6 separate regions of the Homo sapiens genome follow, and all the other regions are reported to be linked to region 1. Evidence: microRNA targets listed by miRTarBase, many of them from high-throughput screens and not tested one by one. Region 1 holds a microRNA gene; each other region holds the end of a gene's coding sequence.

The links. Region 1 holds the annotated microRNA hsa-miR-374b-3p (CUUAGCAGGUUGUAUUAUCAUU, at 2,907-2,928, shown strand). A microRNA usually pairs through its seed, bases 2 to 8, with sites in the 3' UTR of a target mRNA and lowers its output. Matches are read on the target gene's strand: a 7mer-m8 pairs with bases 2 to 8, a 7mer-A1 pairs with bases 2 to 7 and ends in A, and an 8mer does both.
Region 2: the mRNA of RFK is a reported target of hsa-miR-374b-3p. Seed matches in the 3' UTR shown: 7mer-A1 at 1,636-1,642 and 8mer at 2,158-2,165.
Region 3: the mRNA of OSCAR is a reported target of hsa-miR-374b-3p. Seed matches in the 3' UTR shown: 7mer-m8 at 2,932-2,938.
Region 4: miRTarBase lists ZC3H10 as a target of hsa-miR-374b-3p. Seed matches in the 3' UTR shown: 7mer-m8 at 3,235-3,241.
Region 5: miRTarBase lists ZC3H13 as a target of hsa-miR-374b-3p. Seed matches in the 3' UTR shown: 7mer-A1 at 811-817.
Region 6: the mRNA of MKLN1 is a reported target of hsa-miR-374b-3p. Seed matches in the 3' UTR shown: 7mer-A1 at 2,059-2,065 and 7mer-A1 at 2,618-2,624.

What each region holds. Positions count from the first base shown.
Region 1 is chrX:74,217,395-74,221,484 of GRCh38, reverse strand. It overlaps MIR374B (microRNA 374b), which reads left to right and starts at 2,867; the gene lies at 2,867-2,938. The region is part of intron 5 of FTX (FTX transcript, XIST regulator); the gene reads left to right. It overlaps MIR421 (microRNA 421), which reads left to right and starts at 3,024; the gene lies at 3,024-3,108. It overlaps MIR374C (microRNA 374c), which reads right to left and starts at 2,936; the gene lies at 2,867-2,936.
Region 2 is chr9:76,383,823-76,387,912 of GRCh38, reverse strand. It overlaps RFK (riboflavin kinase), which reads left to right. Exons shown (of 4, transcript NM_018339.6): 4 at 384-2,387. The coding sequence ends at 514. Among named protein-coding and RNA genes, the nearest start is that of RFK, 8.6 kb to the left of the region's middle.
Region 3 is chr19:54,091,737-54,095,826 of GRCh38, forward strand. OSCAR (osteoclast associated Ig-like receptor) reads right to left here. Exons shown (of 5, transcript NM_133169.6): 5 at 2,932-3,621. The coding sequence ends at 3,485. Among named protein-coding and RNA genes, the nearest start is that of OSCAR, 7.0 kb to the right of the region's middle.
Region 4 is chr12:56,121,213-56,125,302 of GRCh38, forward strand. It overlaps ZC3H10 (zinc finger CCCH-type containing 10), which reads left to right. Exons shown (of 3, transcript NM_032786.3): 3 at 1-4,090. The coding sequence ends at 655. Among named protein-coding and RNA genes, the nearest start is that of ZC3H10, 5.0 kb to the left of the region's middle. RefSeq lists an enhancer at 1-940.
Region 5 is chr13:45,953,730-45,957,819 of GRCh38, reverse strand. ZC3H13 (zinc finger CCCH-type containing 13) reads left to right here. Exons shown (of 19, transcript NM_001330564.2): 19 at 523-3,355. The coding sequence ends at 693. Among named protein-coding and RNA genes, the nearest start is that of ZC3H13, 97 kb to the left of the region's middle.
Region 6 is chr7:131,486,971-131,491,060 of GRCh38, forward strand. MKLN1 (muskelin 1) reads left to right here. Exons shown (of 18, transcript NM_013255.5): 18 at 637-4,090. The coding sequence ends at 758. Among named protein-coding and RNA genes, the nearest start is that of PODXL, 68 kb to the right of the region's middle.

The DNA of each region.
Region 1 (4,090 bases):
GGCTCTCAGAATGATGGCTCTCTTGACTGTGGCACTGATCATAGATTTAGAAGCTCCAGTATGGGAGGACCTTAAAAGTCTCCTATCCCAAATAGATTATTTTAAACTAACCCCAGTTCAAGTCCCTGGATAACATACCCAACAAATGGTCTTTTAACTTCTGAGTAAGTTTACTTGGTAACTGGGGACTCCTCCTTGAGTTAGCTTGTCCCTTCTTTTGAGACCTCTTTACAACATTGAGCCCCAAAATGTTTTTCTATAGCTTCAATTCATTCAGCATATTTGTATTGTACCACTACTCAAGAACATTGCTTTATTCTCACTCCTGCATATTCAGCATCTCTCCTCTCTGCTGTCATTTGAGCTGCCAGGCACTGTGCTGGGTAGTGGGGATATGGAGATGAATTAGACACCATCCCCGTCCTCAAGGAGTTCTCAGTCTAGTGAGAGAGATCAACATCTATGTACACATATAATTACAACAATATGGTATGCTCTACAATGGAGGTATGTATAAGATACTCTGGAGTTCAAAGAGAAATCATTTTACAGAGTCTGGAGATGACAGAGCTCAGAGTACCTGGTATATGAGTTGAGTCTTTAAAGAAGTAAAGTCACCTTTTGACTAGGTGAAAAACAGGGAAAGGCTTTCCAAGCAAAAGCATGGACATTGGAAGTAGTATGATGAGTTTGGGGAACTACAAATAGTTCTCTAAATTAGGTTGGAAATGTAGGCCAGGAATAGAACTTTATATGGTATGCCATGGGATTTGGATTTCATTATAAGTGTTTTCAGAAAGGGATGCTTTTAGATGATCACTGGCAGTAGTGTGGGGTGTGTTCAGGAATGTTTTCAAATCTGGACAGGGAGATGAGTTAGAAGGATACTGTGGTGGCTAAGATGAGAAATGATGTAGGGCTGAAAGGAGTGGGAGTGGCGAAGAGGGGATAACCTCTTAGGAAGTTATAAAAATTTAGTCATGCATTGCTTAGCAATGGGGATATGTTCTGAGAAGTGTATTGTTAGGCGATTTTGTCATGTGAACTTCATAGAGTATATTAACACAAACCTCTCTAAATGGTATAGCCTATTACACACCTAGGCTACAAACCTGTACAGCATATGACTGTACTGAATACTGTAGGCAATTATAACAGAATGGTAAGTATTTGTGTACCTAAACATATATAAACATAGAAAAGCTACAGTAAAAATATGATATGATTTTGTGGTGGGACAACTGTGGGACAACTGTCATATATGAGGTTCATCATTGTCCTAAACATTGTTAGGCAGCACATGACTGTATAGACATAATAGAACTTATAGGAAAAGTTATAGAAAAACTTATAGAAAAAGACCTTGATGAAAAATACTGTCATATTCTTTGGATGAATGTTGCAATTAACTCCTTTTAGATCATAACTTGACTGTACAGATTGTGCAAGATTGTTTTCTGGGAACAGCTGTATATGAAATGTTGATTCTCAGGGAGACACCTAGACACCTGAATTGCAGCAGACATTTTATGGTGTTGCTAAGTTGCTGGTCCTTCTCATCAGTAGCAGGCCTACTCTCACTGTCACATATCTCCCACGGTTTTTTTTTTTTTTTTTTTTTTTTTTTTTGTAATTAACCAAAAGTGAAGGCTTTTATATCAAAGACTCAATTGAGGAAGCAGTGGCCTTAGTCATTATTGGCATAATTGCTTTAGTTTGCTTATGGATCTTAAAACGTTTATGACTATATCTGCAAGTAAAAAAAAAATTCAATAATTAAAAACCTAAACATATCGAGTGTTTATTTTCTCTTTTTGCAAAGGTATATTCTAAACTCAATGTTCTTCGGGAAATTTTCCAATTAAGGCTCTGAGTATTGATATTTGGGATTTAGAGAATGGCTTTCTATGACCAGAATGGTTAGTGATGAGATTTTATGTAAGTAGGACTGGGTTTTTCAGGGGGCCTTGTGTAACTTGCCATCAAGAGTTGGGAAAGGAGGCCCTGAGCAGTGCAGCAGAGCTATGTAAAGTGAGAGTTTGGGTCTTGGGACCAGGTAGCCTGGGCTCAAATCTGCTCTCACACTTAGCAATGTGGTCTTGAGCATGATTCTTCACTTCCCCAGGACTCTGTTTTCTCTTATGTAAAATAGGAATAATATTTATTTTCAATGATGGGGGTAAAAAGTACTTAAAGGGACTAATTATGTAAATTGCTTAGAACAGGCCTGGAATATACAGCTAAATGCTGTGTCAACTGTTGTTGCTGATAATGGTGTTGACTATGACAAGTATTAAAAGAAGAGATTTGACTAGAGGTACTTATATTTTGAATGATCAGTGACGATGTTAGGGTTGAGAAAGAAAAACAGTAACTGACTTGAAGGTTTTCAATGGTATGTAAGTGTGAGGTCATTTCACCTTTTATTTCTCTGCCAGGTAGAGTGGGAAACCAAATTAATCACTCCATGATCTAGTGACTAATCTATTGCCTTTGCTTTTAGTTCCAAATAGAAAGCTGTTGAAAAGTTGTTGTATTACACCTGCATAAAGGTTATCCTGAAAACAGAAAAATGCATTAGACTTTGTCAAAACTGGATTTGAAACCTAATTCAACTGCTTGCTGGCTGTGTGACTTAAACTTGTTGAACTTCAGTTTCTTCCTCTAATATAACTATTAATTTTCAGAGTTTCCATGAAGATATTTGTAAAGTGTTTGTCATAGGCACTCTATACATTAATTACAGCTATTATTGTTAGATCTTGGGACACCCAGCACGTGACAAAAACAACAGCAGACCCTGGTGCCTGGGAGGACTTCATGGATCCAGCAGCAACCTGGAGTGGTGCTCCTCTGAAGAAATCCTACTCGGATGGATATAATACAACCTGCTAAGTGTCCTAGCACTTAGCAGGTTGTATTATCATTGTCCGTGTCTATGGCTCTCGTCTACCAGACTTTAAATTCCTTAAGGGCAAGGACAGTGCCTTACTCATCTTTGTATTCACAGTGCCTAATCCGGTGCACATTGTAGGCCTCATTAAATGTTTGTTGAATGAAAAAATGAATCATCAACAGACATTAATTGGGCGCCTGCTCTGTGATCTCCATGGGCTCAGCTTGTCCCCGCCAGTTGCCAACAACGTCCAAGCTCTCTTCAGAATGCTTACTCCTGAAGCTTATTCCTGTCTTCTAATTCTTTTGTTGAGGACTTTTCTGTGTAGTGCAATGATAGCAAATACACTTCATCTCAAGTACCATCTCCAATTGATTGATAATGCCTGCCCTGATTATGTTTTATAACAAGATTCTGAAACCAGGTCTTATCTCAGTGTGAAAGACATTTATAACTATTTAGTGATGTCTGCTGAGGGTCGGAGAAGGGGGAGTAGCAGCACAAGTGCCTCATATGTCATATTTGCTACTCTGTTTTCTATGAAATACTTCATTTCTATGCCTGCATTTTGGTCTTAGCTACTTGCTGATGTTGCATGGCTGTTGCTGCTACTGTAATTGCTGCTAATTGCTCCCTGGGTTGGACCAGAGTGCTCATTGTCTGAACAGAAACCTCATCCTCACAGTCTGAGGTTTGCTCCTGTGGCTGATATTTAAAGTTTTCCCCTTTCAACTTTACTCCAGCTATCCCCTTACCTGCACTGACAGGTAATCCTCCACCGTCCTGTTCACCTCTCACCAGGTTCATATTTTCTTTATCTTATTTATTGTACTTAATCATTATTTTGTGAGAAGCTTTTCTGATTGTAGATGTGACAACCAGAATACAAGTTAAAACCACTTATCCAGCGCCTTACAGTGAATCATTTAACATGAGAAAAAAATTGAGTGTGTTTGCAGACCATGGGGCAGAAGGAATTGAGAAGGGAGTCATTGTAGATGTGAGAAAGAGAGAGATGATAATAGATGGAAGATGATCTTGAAAGATGATGCAGGTGAAGCTGGAAGGGTGAAATTTATGGCTCTAGAACACATGCAGGTGGAGGGTTAGCCTTAGGTAAGTGGAACTACCTCTTTGCTGGAGCACAGAGATAGGGATAGGAGTAAGGAAGAGGACTTGGCAAGGGTGGTGAAG
Region 2 (4,090 bases), not on the chromosome of region 1:
ATTCTCCTGCCTCAGCTTCCTGAGTAGCTGGGATTACAGGCACCCACCATCACACCCCGCTAATTTTTGTAGTTTTAGTAGAGTCAGGTTTCACCATGCTGGCCAGGCTGGTCTCGAACTCCGGACTTCAGGTGATCTGCCCGCCTCAGCTTCCCAAAGTGCTGGGATTACAGGCATGAGCCACTGCCCCCGGCCTAGGGACATATCTTTTGTGTACCATTGACTTAGGCCTGGAAGGAGTGATGGAACAAACATTTATTGGGTATCTACCCTGTGCAGAGATACTGCCAGCCTGTGAGTTTTTAGGATTGGCTAAACAGAGTAGTAGTAAAAAGTATGTTAATGGTTTTTCATCATTTTTACCTGGTATATTCTCTCTGCAGAGTCACTTATTTCAGCAATTCAAGGTGATATTGAAGAAGCTAAGAAACGACTAGAGTTACCAGAACATTTGAAAATCAAAGAAGACAATTTCTTCCAGGTTTCTAAAAGCAAAATAATGAATGGCCACTGATGAAAAATTGTATTATTTATTCATTCACTGTTTTCTAGTGTTTCTGTGTTTATTACTGTTCAGCATCATCTTGGTTATATACTGAAAATCAAACACTTTACTACAGTTGTGAATTAGTTTAAACCGTACAATGTTGTTATCATATCATGCTTCAACTATTAAATTAAGCCCATCATATCATAGCACTAAAAAGATTGAGTTAAAAATAAGATTTAAAAAATATATATTGATTAAAATGTACCACTAGAAAGGTATTACATGTGTATAAGTATGGGTAAAAAGGCAAGTCACTAGTTTGAGATGAAAACTAAAATTTTCATGGTAAAATGCCAGCATGTATGTACTTGTGTAGTGTGTACTTCTAAACAGAGAAGGCTTATAAAAGTAAATGCATTAAGGCCAAGTGCAGTGGCTCACACCGGTAATCCCAGCACTTTGGGAGGCCGAGGTGGGAGGATTGCTTGAGCTCATGAGTTCAAGACCAGCCTGGGCAACATAGCGAGACTCCATCTCTATAAATAAAAAAAAAGGAAATGCATTAAATAGAAGGTTGATAGTTTATCATAAACCTGCGGGGAAGAAACTCAGACTTTCTATTTTTGATATTTTGTGCATTAATACATTACAAACATGAAGATGTTTGTAAAGTTTTGTTTTAGTCATTTTCTTTGCAGTCACATCATTGTACCACCTTCATTATTGTATAGAGCTGCTTCAATTCTGAGTCCTCTGGACTTCCCCTGCCTATCTGTTTGTTGTTGTTGTTGAAGACAGTAAAATAAGTGTTTTCAAATCTATATGTCTCCTTTTTGTTGGATAATGTTTCTTCTTTTTAATGGTAAATATTCTTGTTCTTCAACATTTTTCTTTGGTTCTTTTTTCCTTTTTTAGGAAAAACAAAACAACAGACTTCATCCTTAGGTTTTCTCAAGATTTAAGTGAACACATTTACACATATCAATTTCTTAAAGAACACAAAATGTTTCCTCCCTAGCAAAACTATTTAAGAGCCAATTAAACTATGAAATAGTTATAAAATTATTTTTAATATTTAAGGCCTTGAAATTATATTCCAAGGCAAATCTAAATGGGTGTAGTTGTATATGCACGATGTAATTTAATGCTAAAGAGTACTTACAGCTTGAGGGAAAAGCATAAAGTTTTAGTTAAATAGCCTTCATACTGTGGATTTTTCCTCCTACTAACTAATATGTGGGAAATTAAGATTACAGATGCTTTGGGCCCCCTCAAACAGTACATTGCTACAGTTCACTGTAGCAACAGATTTGGTGGTGATGGGGGGATAGAGGTAGAAGCAGATAGAAGGTAATTTTAAAGTTAATTTATTATGAATCATTTTCCCCTAATCTGCATAAATGAATTAGAACTGATTTTAATAAAAATATTCTGTGTAAAAAGTACTCAGAAAAACATCTAAAGCTGTTGGAGAAGAGGGACTCATATAAATAGTTGGATTGCGTTTTGCTTTTTATTTCTTTATAAAAATATGTCAAAAACAGTTTTTAATTTTAGAAATCTTATACTTGAAAGAAACCTCAATTATCAGTGGCTTTATGAAGTAAAGTTAAAAACAAACATAGGAAATGTGAAAATATTTGTGTTTGTTTTGTCTGACTAACTTGCTGCTAAATGCTATCTTTAGGTGTGTGAAAGTTCTTTGATATGTTATTGTCCTTTTACATCTTGTTAAATAGCCATTGCTTTTGAGAATCAGATAGTGTGTTGTTTAGGGGTTAATTGTGTCTATATCTTTCAAAAACTTTTATATTATGTATTATAAGAAGTTACAGTAGTACCATTTTGATTAGTCTGAATGTTTTCAGGCCTTGAAATAAATTTTGACTAAGTGATATTTTTTCTTTCCCTGTGTCAGCTTGAATCTTACTTTATGTATTTCGAATTTGTTGGCTGATTGCTACTCTTAAGTGTGTGAAGTTGCCTGAAGAGCAAGATATAGGTGGCAGCTGTAGTTCTACAACAAAGGGCCTTGCCTTCAGGATCCCCTGTGTTTTATGCCTGCAACACAGTGACTGAGGTTTATTTGGAGAGCAATCACAGGGCATCACTACTAAAGTCCACTTCCTGAGAGTAAGGGTTCCTGTTACATTTTGGAGATAGAAGAGCCAGAAGAGTATAGATAGGTCTGGGTTCCCTTGCATAACTCCTGCCCCAAAACAGAGTTCTGTAACCTTCTTGTCTTTTGCCACCAACCCCATAAGCAGCAACTTAGAACTCGTTTGCCTTTCTCTGTTGCATGCTGGTACTCTTTGAACAGTCATCCCCAGAACTCTCATCTTCCTCAACTATGGAGGCTTACAGCCTGCAGTTAGAGCTTACCATGAAACATGATTCTGATTGGGAGATGGAAGTGGAAGTCTGGTCTTCAGAGATGGAGCCAAGAAACTAACCTATTCTGCCAAAAAAGATGCCAGAAACAAATTGTAAAATAAGCTCTACAGAGATGGCAGATCCAGGGTTATCAGATATAGAATTTGAAATGACTGTTTAATATGTGTAATGAAGTAAAAGAGTAACAAAAATGGTAAAATGGCAAGGTGTTGTATAAAAATTGGGCAGCTGGGTGCTGTGGCATGTGCCTATAATCCTAGCTATTTGGGAGGCTGAAGCAGGAGGATTACTTGAGGCCAGAAATTCAAGGCTGTAGTGTGCTGTTATGGGTACTTGTAAGTAGCCACTGCACTCCAGCCTGGGCAACATAGTAAGATCCTGTCTCTATTAACATTTAAAGTAAAGTAAAAATTGGGCAGATAATTGAGAATTGTCCGAAATATATAGTTATAAAGAAAAATTGAAATTAAAAAGTCAATGGATGGGTTAAATACATATTAAACAACAAGAGAATTGGTGAACTATGAGACTTAAGTCTGTGACTGTGCTGTCAGCTCCAAATTCACCATTGATACTCTGATGTCGCTGTGACTCTACATTTCTTTGACAATTGGCTTCCTTTTAGGTCAGGTCATAAATGGAATTTGAACCCCAGGTTGTCATTTCTCAGGCAGCTCAGTAAGTCCCTGGACCTACCCTGTGCTTATTTTTTGTTCCCACGTGTATATTTGAGATAGACATACTTGACTATTGACAGAATTTCCACTTAGCTTCCCTGACCATTACAAGTGCCAAGTAGAAGCCAGGATAGTAAACCACAACAATGCTACATCTCCAGGAAAATTGGAGAGGTCATCATCAAAAATCCTGAAAGATTAGCTGGGTGTGGTGTGGTGGGCCTATGGTTCCAGCTATTCGGTAAACTGAGCTGGGAGAATAGCTTGAGCTCCTGAGTTCAAGACTGCAGTATGCTCTAATCATGCCCATGAATAGCCACTGCACTCCAGTTTGGACAACAAAGGGAGACCCTGTCTCAAAAAAAAAAAAAAAAAAAAAAAAAAAAAGCTGAAAGTTTGAGGATAGAGGCTGCTATTATATCTGTTTAGCCTGCACAGAAATTTGCTAAATCTTGGAGAATGACTATTATCAGCTAATCAAGTGATGATTTCAATTGCAGCTATTGTCTGCGATATGTAAAAGTATCAG
Region 3 (4,090 bases), not on the chromosome of region 1:
CCTGGCCAACATGGTGAAACCCCATCTCTACTAAAAATACAAAAGTTAGCTGGGCGTGGTGGTGGCACACGCCTGTAATCCCAGCTACTCGGGAGGCCGAGGCAGGAGAATCGCTTGAACCCAGGAGGCGGAGGTTGCAGTGAGCCGAGATCGCGTCATTGCACTACAGCCTGGCAACAGAGCGAGACTCCATCTCAAAAAAAAATAATAATAATAATAGTAATAATAAATTGGCCAGGCGTGGTGATGGCAGTGTTGTCATTGCTTTAAGAGGCAGGAACAGGGGGAAAAGACCCAGCAGTCTAACCACACAGACAAGTCCCAAGTTAAGCACTTCTGTGTGACTTGGGGGCTGTTGATAAAGATCAGAAATAACCTATGTGGATCACCCAGCAAAATGACCAGTATGAAAAGATGTTCAGTGGTAGAAAATGAAATAAGCATTGTGACTACAACTCACTCAATAAGCATTCATTGAACACTGGTCACTGGTAAACTGCTATGAAGAAATCTCAGCTGGGTGCAGTGGCTCACGCTTGTAATCCCAGCACTTTAAAGGGAGACCAAGGTGGGCAGATGGATCACTTTAGGTCAAGCGTTCGAGAACAGCCTGGCCAACATGGTGAAACCCCATCTCTACTAAAAACACAAAATTAGCCGGGCATGGTGGCAGGTGCCTGTAATCCCAGCTACTTGGGAGGCTGAGGCAGGAGAATCGTTTGAACCCGGGAGGTGGAGATTGTAGTGAGCTGAGATCACAACACTGCACTCCAACCTGGGAAACAGAGCAAGACTCCATCTCAAAAAGAAAAAAAATCTCAAGCTTATTGGATAGATAAATGCACAGGTAGATAGATGGATATTGAATGAATAAATAGTTCAGTGGATTAAAAACTGGTTAATGAAGAAATGGATGGGTAAATGGATGGAAATATGAATGAATGCATGATGGATAAGGACAAATGAAATAGACAAATGTACAAATGAAAGCAAAGGAAAAAGAGATGCTCAATAGAAATGAATAAGGATGAGAATCAATGCTAGACATGAATGAGTGAATGGTGAATGAAGGAGTGATTGAATGGATGAATACATGGAGTTAAGTTGAAGTACAAACTCGGCCAAGACTTCTTTTTCTCTGCTTTGGGTGGAAATACATTTTAAAAAAAAGAGGGCCGGGCACGGTGGCTCATGCCTGTAATCCCAGCACTTTGGGAGGCTGAGGCGGGCGGATCACCTGAGTTTGGGAGTTCGAGGCCAGCCTGACCTACACAGAGAAACCCTGTTTCTACTCAAAATACAAAATTAGCCAGGTGTGGTGGCTCACACCTGTAATCCCAGCTACTCGGGAGGCTGAGGCAGGAGAATCACTTGAACCTGGGAGGCGGAGGTTGTGGTGAGCCGAGATGGCGCCATTGCACTCCAGCCTGGGCAACAAGAGCGAAAGTCCACCTCAAAAAAAATAAAATAAAATAAAATAAAATAAAAAAAGAGGGAAAAAGGAAAAAAAAAGACTCCCTGATGTGCCACTGACTTCCTGTACATGTTTAGGTAAACTTAATATCACCTCTCTTTCCACCATTTTCCCATTTATAAAGTGGGAAGACTGGATTTGATGACATCACAGCCTCATCCAGGTCTGGTGCCTTCCTTATAACCTGCGTCTCTTCTTTATTCTTTTTTTTTTTTTTTTTTTTTTGAGACGGAGTTTTGCTCTGTCACCCAGGCTGGAGTGTGCAGTGATGCAATCTCGGCTCACTACAACCTCCGCCTCCTGGGTTCAAGCAATTCTCCTGCCTCAGCCTCCCGAGTAGCTGGGATTACAGGCGCCCGCCACCATGCCCGGCTAATTTTTGTATTTTTAGTAGAGACGGGGTTTTACCATGTTGTCCAGGCTGGTCTCGAACTTCTGACTTCGTGATCCACCTGCCTCAGCCTCCCAAAGTGCTAGGATCACAGGTGTGAGCCAGCACCCCCGGCTTATTCCTTTTTTAAAATTGTTATTATTTCCCACAGCCACATATGCCGGGGAGGTTGTCCCACATATGTTCTACCAAGGCCCCTCTGGCACTGAGATCAAACCCCGGAAGACCCGCTCAGTCTCTCCTCCCGTCTTTTCAACACGTTAGCGCCCCCAGGTGGCTAATTAGACTTCAAAATTCAGTTCTTGAGGCGGGCGGATCACTTGAGGTCAGGAGTTCAAGACCAGTCTGGTCAACATGGTGAAACCCCGTCTCTACTAAAAATACAAACATTAGCCGGACATGGTGGTACGCACCTGTAATCCCAGCTATTCGGGAGGCCGAGGCAGGTGGATCACTTGAGGTCAGGAGTTCGAGACCACCCTGGCCAATTTGGCAAAACTCCATCTCTACTAAAAATACAAAAATTAGCTGGGCGTGATGGCGCACACCTGTAATCCCAGCTACTCAGGAGACTGAGGCACGAGAATCACTTGAACCCGGGAGGCGGATGTTGCAGTGAACCGAGATCACGCCACTGCACTCCAGCCTGGGTGGAGTGAGATCTTCTCTCAAAAAAAAGAAAGAAAGAAAGAAAGAAAAAGTCGTGCTTGATTATGCTTGATGGCAAAAAGGTGAGACCTTCCTTTCGGCACTGAGTCTGGTAGAAATCGGTGTTACAGGGTAGCTAACATTTATTGAACACTTACTACGGGCCAGTTACTGCTTTAAATGTTTTATGTGTATTACCCACTGACTCCTACAACAATCCTATGAAGTGGGTTTTATCAGTGCATCCATTTTACCGTCAAGGCAAGAGAGAGTTGGGGAAGGGCGCTTTCTGAATGCTGCTACCGTGTCCAGAGTTGGTTCCTTCCTGTGGGTTTGTGGTCTCGCTGACTTTAAGAATGGAGCCAGGGACCTTCGTGGTGAGTGTTACAGCGCTTAAAGATGGCACGGACCTAAAGAGTTAGCAGCAGCAAGATTTATTGTGTAGAGCAAGAGAACAAAGCTCCCACAACGTGGAAGCAGACTCTGGTGGGGTGCCGCGCTCGCCAGCTTTTATTCCCTTATTGTCCCCGCCCGTGTCCTGCTGATTGGTCCATTTTACAGAGCGCTGATTGGTCCATCTTACAGAGTGCTGATTGGTCCATTTTACAATCCTCTTGTAAGACAGAAAAGTTCTCCAGGTCCCCATTCAACCCAGGAAGTCCAGCTGGCTTCACGTCTCACTACTACCTTTCTGTAGCTGCTACTACTACAGTGAGTAGACGGCAGTGCTGGGATTCGAACCCTCTGTCTTCTGGCTTGGAAGTCTTAACCACTAATCGCGTCTTCCTTTCAGCTACTCCTTGGGAAAGGCCTGGAAAGAAGCTACAGCACAGGGCACAGCGGGGTCTAAGGACCGTTCCGCGGAGCTCAGCCAGCAGGACTGTGGGGCTGCAGGAAAGGACAGTCCAGCCCAGGGTCCCAGCTTCTCCGCCACTCAGGTTGGAAGTCTCGGGCTGCAGTGCTCCTGGGGCTCAGGGGCGGATACCAGCAGGAGCGCGGTTCTGACTGCGCCAGTCAAAAGTGACCAGCGCGCCCAGGGAGATGAGGACCAGCCCGGCCAGCCCCAGGCGGACTAGGTTCCCCCGGGTGTAGTCGGAGGAGCCAGAGTCTGCGGGCGGAGCCGGGAGAGAGGGGCCATCAGCTCCCGGACCCCAAAGTCTGGGCCCTGAACTCCAGGTTTCCAGCCCCTGGGGTGGACTTAGGGACCTGACTCTACAGTCTCAAAGTTGAGGGGGAGTCGATGGAGGCTTCAACTCCTGGGTCCAGGAAGAAGGGGCTGGGGCCTGGACTGCTGGATCAGGAAGGAGGGGCTGGGGGCCTGGAGTCCTGGGTCCAGGAAGGAGGGGCTGGGGGCCTGGAGTCCTGGGTCTGAGGGAGGAGGTACTGGGGCCCGGGAATCCTGGGTCTGAGGGAGGAGGAGCTGGAGGACTAGACTCCTGGATCTGAGGGAGGAGGGGCTGGGTCCCAGGAATCCTGGGTCTGAGGGAGGAGGGGCTGCAGGACTAGACCCCTGGGTCTGAAGGAGGAGAGGCTGGGGGCCTGGGCTCCTGGGTCTGAGGGCGGAGGTCCTGGGGCCT
Region 4 (4,090 bases), not on the chromosome of region 1:
TGATGGCCCTCATTTTGAGTCATATGAATATAGTTTGGCTCCACCGCGAGGGGTGGAGTGCAGACTGCTAGAGGAGGAGAATGCCATGCTCAGGAAGCGGGTAGAGGAGTTAAAGAAGCAGGTCAGCAACCTGCTGGCCACCAATGAGGTACTACTGGAACAAAATGCTCAGTTCCGCAATCAGGCCAAGGTCATAACCCTGAGCTCCACTGCACCAGCGACTGAGCAGACTCTGGCCCCCACTGTGGGCACTGTTGCCACTTTTAACCATGGCATTGCCCAGACTCACACTACTCTCAGCAGCCAGGCTCTACAGCCTCGTCCAGTGTCCCAGCAAGAACTGGTGGCCCCTGCTGGAGCTCCAGCTGCTCCCCCAACTAATGCTGCACCTCCTGCTGCTCCACCACCCCCACCCCCACACTTGACCCCAGAGATCACGCCACTGTCAGCTGCCCTGGCTCAAACAATTGCCCAGGGAATGGCACCTCCACCTGTCTCCATGGCTCCTGTGGCTGTATCTGTGGCTCCTGTGGCCCCTGTGGCTGTATCGATGGCCCAACCCTTGGCAGGAATCACAATGAGCCACACCACCACTCCCATGGTGACTTACCCTATCGCTTCCCAGAGCATGCGCATCACGGCCATGCCACACTGATGGGGCTAATGGACACTCCCCTGGTATAGCCTCGCAGGGCTGGGGTCAGGGGGCCCTTGCCCACTCACCTAGCCTTCCCCATCCCTGTCTGAAGGGCTCCCTTGAGAACTAGGACAAGAGACTACAAGGAGTATGTCCTGAGGAGGGGTTGGGATGGTGTGTTTTCTCTCACCTCCCTTTTATGAGGGTCCTCTTGTCCATCTTCAAGCCTCACAGTGGGGGCTTGCAGAGGAGTGCAGACTGAAGCCAGCAGAGAGGAAGGACTGACTGAGGGGCTGTGTCCTCTTATGGGAATTTGGGAACATCCCTCGTCTTGTCCTCTCTTCTGCACAGCACAGGTTCCAGCACTGGTTTTAGAAGAAAAAAATACCCTGCCCAGAGGGAAAGCCAGGAAAGATTGGGAAGTGGGTGGTCAGGAGAGAAGGCCTGATAGGAGCCTTCAGACAATTTGGGTCCTAGTTGCTTGGGTTGGACAATACAGGAATTGCTTCTGGGCCCTGGGAAAGCTGGGACCATAGTGCTCCAGCCCAAAGACTAGGGGAGCATTCATTACCCTAGTTTGACCTGAAAATCCATAGGGCAGGGCCCACTACTTTCCAAAGAAATAAAAGAACAATTATTTTTAACAAATGGAGGCAGTGAAAACTTGCTTAGCTATTCTGTGTGGAAGATGGGAGCAGTAAATAGATCTCATGCCAAAATGGGATAAAGACCCCAGCCTCACATAGCTTTGGTAAGATGGATAGAAGCCAGTGAAGAAGGGTAGGGACCCAGAACAAGACCAAATGGGGCTTTGGGGAAGGCACTTTATGGGGTAAAAGCTTTGGAGCCACCCAGTCTAGTTTTAAAAATAGTCCCATCTGTTTCTGGTCTCTGTCTGTATGTGCTATTCCCAGGTTGCCTCAGTAACCAGGGCTCCTAGGGTCATTTAGCAGGGCAGGCAGTAAGGAGAGTGTATTTGCTGAAATGCGGATGGGATGTTACATAGTTGACAGATCCTTATTCAAACAGAGCAGGACAGGTGGAGTTGATGGCCATTGAGTTGATGGCAGTTGCCGCTCAGTTGATGGCAGTTAATGTCCCTCCTACCCCACCCCTTCAGTGGCCAGTTCCTGAAGCCTTCAAGGCTTGGGAGGTCTGGGAAAAGAGAGTCCTTCTAGGGACACAAGCCTCAGGGTCCATCCCTTTCCTCTGTCTCCACATAGGACCAGAAGTTTTAAATCTACTTAAGTCAGTAAGGCCAGGGGCCCCAATAGTCAAACCTCAGTTCCTCCTCAGCTCACGGCTGATGTAGGGAAAACAACTCAGGTGTCTAGTCTAATGGGACAGTAGATTTGGGGGTAGAGAGTGATCCTGGATTGTGTTCCCCCTCATCATGTCTCCTGCTACCTCTTGCTTTCTTGTCTGGTTGATCACTCAGGTCACATCTGGGATTGGAGATGGTGGGCTAGGTCAAGGCCAGTCATTAAAAAAAAAAGCCTAAAGACTAAAAGTGGGCTAACATTGTGGATTTTAGAAACAACACATTGATAAGCTTAATGTTTTTTGGGACACAATTTTTTTTTTTTTTTTTGAGATGGAGTCTTGCCCAGTCACCAGACCGGAGTGCAGTGGCGCAATCTCGGTTCACTGTAACCTGCGCCTCCTGGGTTCAAGCGATTCTCTTGCGTCAGCCTCCCGAGTAGCTGAGACTACAGGCGCCCGCCACCACGCCCGGCTAATTTTTTTATTTTTAGTAGAGACGGGGTTTCATCGTGTTGGCCAGAATGGTCTCTATCTCTCGTGATCCGCCCGCCTCAGCCTCCCAAAGTGCTGGGATTACAGGCATGAACCACCGTGCCCGGCAATTCTAGACTATTAAAAGAGATGGTTTAAGAGCATTTAGAGAAGAATGTAACCATAGATACCAACATGAATTCTCAGTCAAATCCTGACTGACTTTATTTCCTCCTTGCCAGGTTATCTCCAAAGAGGTAGATTTGGGAAATTTTAGACATTGTATGTCTTGTATGTATTTACTCCAGCTGAAGACCACCAAGAATACACCTGGTAATTGAGCAAGTTGGGTTTAATGCTCATTGCAGTGAGGGGGAGGGCTCACCATTGGGGATAACGTGGTGTGTCTCAGCATGAGGGTGTTAGGAACGACTTAGAGAACTTAGACTTTGGTTAAGTGATTTTGGGGAAGATTCAAGAAAGTGGGTGTTCTTTTGGATTGGGTGCTGTTAAGGGAATCCAGGATAATTGGGTAGCTTGTCTAGAAGAAGGGCAGACAAGTGAACCTAAGCACAGTCGATGATGAAGTCACTCACTAGCTGGGAAAGGGGATGTTTGCTGTTTTGTGGTTTGCACACTGACCTTGTTTTGTGCTTAAACAAAATTGTGTAGTGATTTTGTTTTTTGTCTCACTTCATCGCAGTCACTGAGTGACCTTGTCTGATGCTGGTGTTTTGTGAGATTGTTTGTGTCCAAGAGAACTCATTGGCTACCTGTGAGCACCAGGTCAGCCCTAACAGCTCTGAAGCCTGGCTGTGTCAGGCCAGTTCCCAGATTACAGGAGCTACTTTCCTCTCTCTCACCTGCTAAGTCATCACAGATAAGAGGAAAATTACGGGTCAGTTAATCGTAGCATTTTTTCCATGCAAATGGCTCTGGTTAAAAAATAATGAGAAAAAAATAGTAGCATTTGGTAGAATCAAACTGAACACTTGTACTTAGTGTTGGTTAGCGCATTTATGTTAGAGAAATCTCTGTTCTCTAGTGATAAGCCCAAGGGCTATGTTTTATTGTAAAAAGAAAAAACCCAACTCGGGTAAACATGTAAAAAACCCATTTATCAACAGTAACACAGGAAGAGCTAAATAATATTCAAAGTGTCTGTAACTTGAATTGACTAAAACACTGGAGCACTCTCACACTAAAAAATTGCTTAGATCTTGAACTAGTTTGAGGAACAATGTTAGAGATTTATATTAGCAATAATTCACATGAGAACAAACTGGGACTTCCAGTTGGCTGCAAAAAAATAGAATCTTAGCCCTCAAGATGTCCATTTATAAATATTTATTAAGAGCCTGCTATGTTCTAGGCATCTTTCTAGGAGCTCCATAAGGGTAGTAGAACCTTGGTAATAGATTACAAATACAGCAGTTCTATGTTCTGCCTAAGTGTAACCACTTAGTAGTGTGTTGTTCTAAATGTAATTTTTAAAGAGGGCCATTGACAAACCAGTGTGTTGCTAGAAAAAAAAGGCTGGCAAGAGAAAGCTTCAAATAGAAGTCTTCAAATATTTGAAGGGCTGCCCAGTGGAGGAAGATCCTGTTTGCTACACAGGAAGTAAAAAGGGATTTCTAGAATAATGGCTAACTTTTTTTTTTTTTTTTTTTTTGAGACGGAGTCTAGCTGTGTGGCCCAGGCTTCAGTGCAGTGGCACGA
Region 5 (4,090 bases), not on the chromosome of region 1:
TATGGGACATTGAAAGATTGGTAAGGAGTATAGAATAGAATGTTTGGCTTACAGAAGGAAAAACTATGTGAGGAAGGAACTCATGGCACTTACCTTCATAGAACTGAAGGATTGTCAAGTAAAGGTAAGATTGAATTACAGTGTAGCACCATAGAAGAGCTTTTATTCCATCACATGGAAGAAATAGTGCCATTCAACAACAGAACGTGCAGTGTGTTTTTTGTTTGTTTTGTCATTGGAAATGATAAAGTAAAAACCGGTTGATTACCTGTCAGAAATTGTTGAGAGGATTCCTACTTTAAGCAAGAGGTTAAACTAGGTGCCCTCTAAAAGTTTCTTTTCAAAGATTCATTGAGCCCAAACACATTTTCTAATTTTGCTTTGAAATCCAATAAAGCTAATTTAATATCCAAAATGAAATACTCTTATAACTTTGATATTTTGGGTAGAGGTTAACCTGCCCATCTTTCCTACTAATAATGTACATCTTTTTTAAAGTTTGTTTTTGTTTTCTTCAAATAGGGCACCATAAAACAAGCTTACACGAGTGCTCCAATGGTAGACAATGAATTACTTCGATTGAGTCTTCGGTTATTTAAGCGGAAGACTACTTGCCATGCTCCAGGACATGAAAAGACTGAAGATAATAAACTTTCACAGTCCAGTATCCAACAGGAACTGTGTGTGTCTTAAGACCGAAGTTCAATATGGTATTTTTGGTACTGTCTTCCTTCAGCAGTGCATATTCTTTTGCAAAGTTCTTTGGTTTGACAAGCATTAGTGACAAAGGCAGAAAAGATTTATCAGCCATGCTAAAAGAGTGAAGAATTTTGATCTTTAGAGACACTAGTTTTGGCCAACTTAAGATTTTACGTTAATTTTTACATAGTATTTGACACTCATGCAAAATAATGTGAAAACATCTAGATTTAGTAGTTTATTCTGCGCCTTTTGTTAAAACTGAAGATTTTGGAAAATGGTTGTCACTGCTCTTCCAGCCTATGAATATTTTTGTGAAATGGAACCATGGATTTATGTCTGGATCATCCATACAGAACCAACAATTTTATTCAAAAACAATGTGTTCATCAAAGTAATTGCTCACATTGTGCAGTACTATGTTGTACAGACCACGTGAAAGGGAATGCTGGTCTAGCTGGCGTGGTATGTTTATAGGCGAATTTCAGCAGAAGGAAGCCAAAATAGTTTTTTCCTTTTGAAAGTTTTTTAAAAATTATTTCATGGGTCTTTTTTTTAATTAATATGTGTGCATTGTTACAATGTATGTTGGATGTCTTTTGACCCTAAATGCTTTTTTTGTTATCAGAGATTGTGTACTATTTTTATTTTTAATAAATGTATCTTCCCTTTCCTTGTTTTAGATTTACTTTGCTCTTCGTTAATCTTATTCCTGATGATCTAGAACATTAGTCATCAACATTACATGTTTCATGCTTCAGATATTTTACTGCTTGTGTCCTTATTGTTGGACAGCTTTAAACAGAGTTGATGTACTTCAAATATAGCTCATTGATACTTAAGGCATCTTCTTGGAATGTGGCTTTTGAAGAAAAAAATTACTCAAAGCAAATCAAGAGTTAACAAACCTAACGTAACCTGAGGTTTAATATTCTACTATCATATTTTTTAGAGCTATAACTTTTGATTATATTAAACTGCCTCCAGCTGTACTATGTAAAACAGATTTACTTTTAAAAATTACAGTATACCTGCTTTGTTCTATATGTATATGTTTAACTCATGAAGTGGACTCTTAGAAGGATTTGAAATGGACTCTGGCCACAGAATTTGTGAGCAGACAGTAGTAGTGATAATAATAAAAGAAGGCAATCAAAATTTAATTTTATCATGCCCTCTCACAGGTTTGTGTTATAATTGTAAGCCCATATTACTTGTGTTAGTAGTTTTGTCTCTATAGGTAACATAATGACAGTGGTGTAAAGTTTCTGTTCAAGAAACATATGTTGTAAAGTTACTTTATACAAGATACCTGCCAAAGGAAATGGTCTTACTTTCAAATGACTTTGAAAGCATGTATAATTGCAAACAGAGCAGGAGAAGACTTTAATCAGAATTTCCTTGTGTCCTTTTCCTTTACTAAGTGTTTTGAATAAAGAAAAAAAAAATGTATGACCTCAGAGAATGAATACCCTTCAGGAAGCCACTTCCTGATTTTAGTGGATAATATTGTTCTCTGTAGCACAAAGATTTAAAGTCCTAGAATTTCTAATCCTAGTTCTCAGAATTGTAGAATATGACAAAAATAATGGTTTCCCCATTTGTCCACTGACTTCAGGGATATTTCACAAGTTATTTATTTATAGAATGAAAACTATGTAGTTAAATCTGTCATTCAGTTAAACCTGTTGTCTTTCAGTTTGAAATCTTTTTGTTATGTATGTTGCAAAAGAAAATTTAGAACTATTCCTTTGTTCACTCAGTCACAGCATTCAGAGCTTTATGTTTCCAGTGGAAATGTACTGTTCAGTCTCAATTTCTTTTAATTCAACCATTCTCAGTATTAGTAACATATACCTATAAAATTTTTCTAAAGCAAAATTTTTGATTGAATTTCTCATAAAAGCTCTTGGACCATAATTAAAGTCTCAGTTAAACTGGTATTCCCGAAAAACAATCTTCCAGTCTATAAATTGTTTGCTAGTACAATTAAAAGGTCATCTATCTCATAACTGACGGCTCAGGTCTGTCCAGTTGCCATAATTGCACAACTGGATTCCAGCTGCTGGTAATAAGGAATTGTGTAGATAGATAAAGGGCAAGAGTATGTCTGCAATCCAAAATAAATGAGAGTTAACACATAATTAGCCTTTTGATTATTTTGGCAGCTATCCTCACCATTTAGTAAAGGGTATACTAACAATACCCAACTTTATTTAACAAAGTTTTGTAAGCATACCTAAGTAGTAACTTGATATGCTGAAAAATCTGACCTGTCACTTCGCTTCACTCTGACCAGTAATTGCAGATTGTCGTCACCATCCTAGCCTATGACTACATTAGGATTTTATGACTTATTAACTTGAAAATCTGTTCTGTAAGTGGCATTGGTAGAATCTCCCACTTTGCTCCTCACTGTCCAATTGTGTAAAGATTAAGGTACATACTATTGTTGGTGATGCTTTTACACCTCAACTTGCTATTTTAAAAGGTTATATGAACCCCTCCCACTTTTAAGGATATTCCCTTTTACTGATTTTCCTAGCTAAAATTATATAGCCATCTTTCTAAATATTGTATTTAAATCTGATCTAGGACTTGCCTTATTTTATCATTTTTCTTTAATAATCTCCAATAAACTTTCTTTATTCATTAATTTTGTTGATCTTTCCATTTCAGTATTTTGAATGACACTCTGGGGAATCCAAGTTTAAATGGTGAAATATTTTTATTAAATAACTTTCTACATGCATCTGTAAACATACTTTCTCAACTTTATTGAGCTGTTTCTTTCATATTTTTTTTTCTTTTTTAAATTATTTTTATAGAGATGGGGTCTTGCCTGGGCTGGTCTCAAACTCCTGGCTTCAAAGCCATCCTCCCGCCTTGGCCTCCCAAAGTGCTGGGATTACAGGCATGAGCCACCATGCCCAGCCCTTTTTTTTTTCAGAGGCAGGGTCTTTCTCTGACCCCCAGGCTGGAGTGCAGTGGCAGGATCATAGCTCACTGCAGCCTCCAACTCTAGGGCTCAAGGGATCCTCCCACCTCAGCCTCCCAAGTAGCTGGGACTACAGGTGTGCATCATCATAACTGGCTAATTTTAAAAAGAAAAATTAAAAAAACACTTTGGTAGGCCAAGGCAGGAGGATTGCTTGAGCCCAAGAGTTCAAAACCAGCCTGGGCAACAAAGTGGGACACCATCTCTGCAAAAAATACAAAAATTAGCCAAGTGTGGTGGCACGTGCCTGTAGTCTTAGCTACTCAGGGAGGCTGAGGCAGGAGGATTGCTTGAGCCCAAGAGGTTGAGGCTGCAGCGAGCTGTGATGGCGCCACTCCATTCTAGCCTAGGCAACAGTATGATACCCTGTCTCAAGTTTAAAAAAAAAAAAAA
Region 6 (4,090 bases), not on the chromosome of region 1:
ATAGGGCCTGGTACATAGTAGCATAAAGGTATAGTGTTATGTGCAGATACCATTCTGCATATTGTACATGTATCTCCCTCAGTCGTCTCTGTTACCACTCAGTTCCCTGAGACTACTTCCAGCTGTCTCAGAGACATTAATGATTTTAGACTAATTTCTAAAGACCTCTTTCATTTTGATTTTATTATATTTTTGTTACTAAAAAACTTTTTTAGTGGTTCAGAAGCATTAACAAGTCAGAAAAGACAAGTGGAATTTCCTCAGTGGACCAGCAGAGAAAAGACCTAATAAGGAAAAAAAGAGAGATCAGTATTATTTGTAACTAAAGTGCCAGTCCTTCTGCTAGACGCTTTTCATGTAACTACATTTAATCTGCACAATAACTGTATGAAGTAAACAGGATTATCACATACTTACAGCTGAGGAAGCAAAGTCTGAAAGCCAGAAAGTCTGACTAATTTATCTAAGATCACACCACAGCCAGGTAGTAGAACTGGGGTCAGATCAGTAGTGTCTGCCTGGTTTTGAAGCCTGATTTGATTTCTCCATTATAAAATACATTGCTGCTGGTCTCAACTAGTTTTTCTGTTACATGTTTTAAACACAATGGATGTTTCTTTGTATCTTCTTCACCAGGCTTTTCTGATGTGGATCACACCTATGCTCAAAGAACTCAGCTCTTTGACACCTTAGTAAATTTCTTTCCTGACAGCATGACTCCTCCTAAAGGCAACCTGGTAGACCTCATCACACTGTAACTGAAGAGTCACTGGACACAGAAATGGAAAACAGGAGTCGATTTTCCGTCTTTTGGATTGCAGCTCCACTGACTGACAGTAAAGCTGCAGTGATTGAGGACTGCACCAGAGTTCTGAAGGGATCTTAACCATCACAAGTTTTTACCCTCTTCCTTCATGCCTGACCTCAACCCCGCTCTCCTCATCCTATTCCTAAATTAGGCTAATAAAGTGAAATTGGTATACTTTCCAGTTAAATATATATATATATATATTTTTTCTTACTTTATCTTTTAAGAATTAATGAGTATAAAAGAAAAATTAGGCAGTTTACCCTTTTCAGATTTTTATTTCTTTTTTTTTTAATTGGGGGAAATAAGCACTATTAACAGATTCAGCACTACAAGTATTTTGAATGTTGTTGCTGTTGGTCATTTGGCCTGCCTTTTCCCTTCCTATTTCACTTTGCCTCCCATCACACAACTGCGTGTAAATGGTGTCACTTGTTCACCTCTTTACTTCATTCTTAACAAGTGTATAGTTCTCTAGGACAGTTGATGTATGTTAAGGTGATATCTGTGTCTGTATTGACTTGTCTTGTGTTACATTAAACAGTAGGCAGAACTGAGGTCTCAAGTTTGCACTCTTGGCCATAGAACTAAAAATGAAACCTGAGATTGACCCAAGCACCTATCTGAGATTGGTATATAATATTTCTATAATGATATATTTTATAGTAGATATTACAATAGCATCTGACTTTGAGTCACAGAAACCTTAAACTGAGGAGACAATAGTTCAGAACCTTTTTAAGAGCCATTCTAAAAGTGACCAGCAGGAGGGATCTAGTAGTGAATAATATCTTAATAGCAATTTTAGGAGAAAATGACTCTTTCGTCCAGAAGAGCTCTGCAGAACCAGGGCTCCCGTTTATCTTGTGCTATCTCTGTAGTATTTTCATTTGAGAGAGGAGGCTGAGTTTCCAGAGCTTTGCTTTCATTTATTTTTATACACATTGTCTCTCTATATCTGCTTGTGGATATTGTTATTTTGAAGAGAAATGGTTTGTGGTTGTCCAGTGGTATACAACTGACAGGCATTTCATTAAGCACATAGACCAGACTTTGTGAATGGTTCAGATATTTTTTCATTAAAAAACAAGGTATGGCAGATGGACTTTTCCATGGGTCAAATTTTTTGTGTGAGAGATAGAGGTACATGTCTTCTGATGATGTGCTGTGGAATGCAATGTGGGAAACCTACATCTGGCTAGTGCTTACATTTGCTCAAAAAGCATGTTGTATGAAGCTGACTGCCACCATGCTAAAGCAGATTCATATTAAGAAGTGTCGGTCGATCCAGTGGCTCTTAAGAGTGAATAGCTTTATGGAATCAAGTATGTCCCTGAGTAGCAAGATTAGGCCTCACCAAAGAAGAAATTAACCTGCACTTTCAAAAAGTACCATGTATAGGAATGAAACATTGAGGTCCCACTTTATTCTGTCTTTAGTACATGGTTTTACTTATTTTGGGGATGGATAGAAATATATTTTTGCTAGTTCTAGGCTTGAATCATGGGCTCCTTGGCTTTCCTAGCATCCCAAAGCAGTCAACAGTGATTTCTTAAGCAATTTGATCTGTACCTTTACTTGTGAAAGGTATGCTATATAATTCAGCAAGTACCAACTTGTGTAGCTGCAGAATAACCAAGTGGCTATCCAGTCAAGTAAATACAGTTTGCTTACATACTTCAACAGTTTCATAAAACGATTCCCCTGAGTGACACAAGAACATAAAATGTTAATATCACTAATATAGCCTGTTAAATCTTTTGTGGAGACAGGTGCAAATCAGAAGATTGACAAGGAAGAACTTGAGCTTGCTAAATAAGACTTCCTAAATTTAAAAGCTCTAGTTTTGCTTAGTGTGAATTCTGGCACTTTAAAAAGATTAAGCAAGTGAAATTCTGCTGCCCTCCACCATTTATTTTTACAGTGCTTTGTAATTTTTTTCATCAGTTCCTTAAATGTTATTTGGAGGAAACTAAGTTCTTGACCTCAGTAATTTTATTTTTGTTTTTCCCTAAATGTTTCCCTACTAGTCTTTTTGGAAAACATGTTTGTTTTAATTTCATCTTCCCTCACTTTATTTAGGTAGAATTTTTCCCCCTTCATTTCTGAAATTTTTTGCTCACCGCCATGTTTAAATGGGGTTGAATCATAGCGAGCCATTTGCTCTTGCCAAAGTGAGATAGATGTACTGAGGAGATAATTGAAAAGTCAGACTCTGTACTGTGGGGCTTTAATCGGAGCACTGCTGGAAATGATTGCAGAGAATGTAGTGCTTCATATATCCATGACCAAGATTGACATGTTGCTCACAACATGTCACAATTTAGTGAGGAGCTACATGTATTTCCAAGAATTCCAGCATAGATTATAATTTAAATAATCGAATTTGGTATTTAGGTACATTGTTTATATAGCCAAGTGTATATGCTTTACTACCTAACAATTATTCTAGCCTAGGTGAATCCCTAATTGAAACACCTGGCTAACACTTTAGACACATAAATTAAGTGGGATACAGTTTTCTCATTTGTATTATCTCCAGCTTCAACCTCATTTATCCTTTTTCCTAGTATAATACATTGTTTTCAACCAGAAATTAAAGTAGATATCCAACATTATTTTCAGTGCTTGTACTTCATGAGAAATAATCTGATTTTCAAGACACCTCTTAAGTGCATTTGCATTTTATTTTGGTAATGGCAGAGACCTCATGTGGCCAGTTTGATTGATTGAAGAATGTATCACTCTTATTCAAGCAAAGGAATTCAGACTTAAATGCCTACCTCTGTGCTGAAGCTGACAGACAGTATTAACTCTTATCAAGGCCATCTTTTAGACCTGATTTTCATTTATATGAAAACAGACCTGTCCATGTCTAATAAGTAAAAACTGATAGAATACATTAAAAAGTCACTGGTTTATCATAGAAAAGTTTGATGGGTTTAGAGCTCAGTGATTTAAGCTTGTAAAACTGCATTCTTGGGCAAAATATTTATATTGTATATAAATGGTTGGCAGCTTATTCCAGTTGATCTCTTCACATCTGCCTTAAAAGTGCTATGTAGAGATACATTAACAGAGTTATAATAAAACAGTGTTTTAAAATCTAGCCTATAAACAAAAACTAGTTTGAGGCACCCAAGCATTTAGTGAGAGATTGAGAATGATGCTTAATGGATCAAAAAAGCAATTAGGAGTATGTTCCTGATTTTATTCTCTAAATTATACTCAATTTCATGGTAATTACATGAAGAAGTTACCTGCAATTATTCTTAACACTAC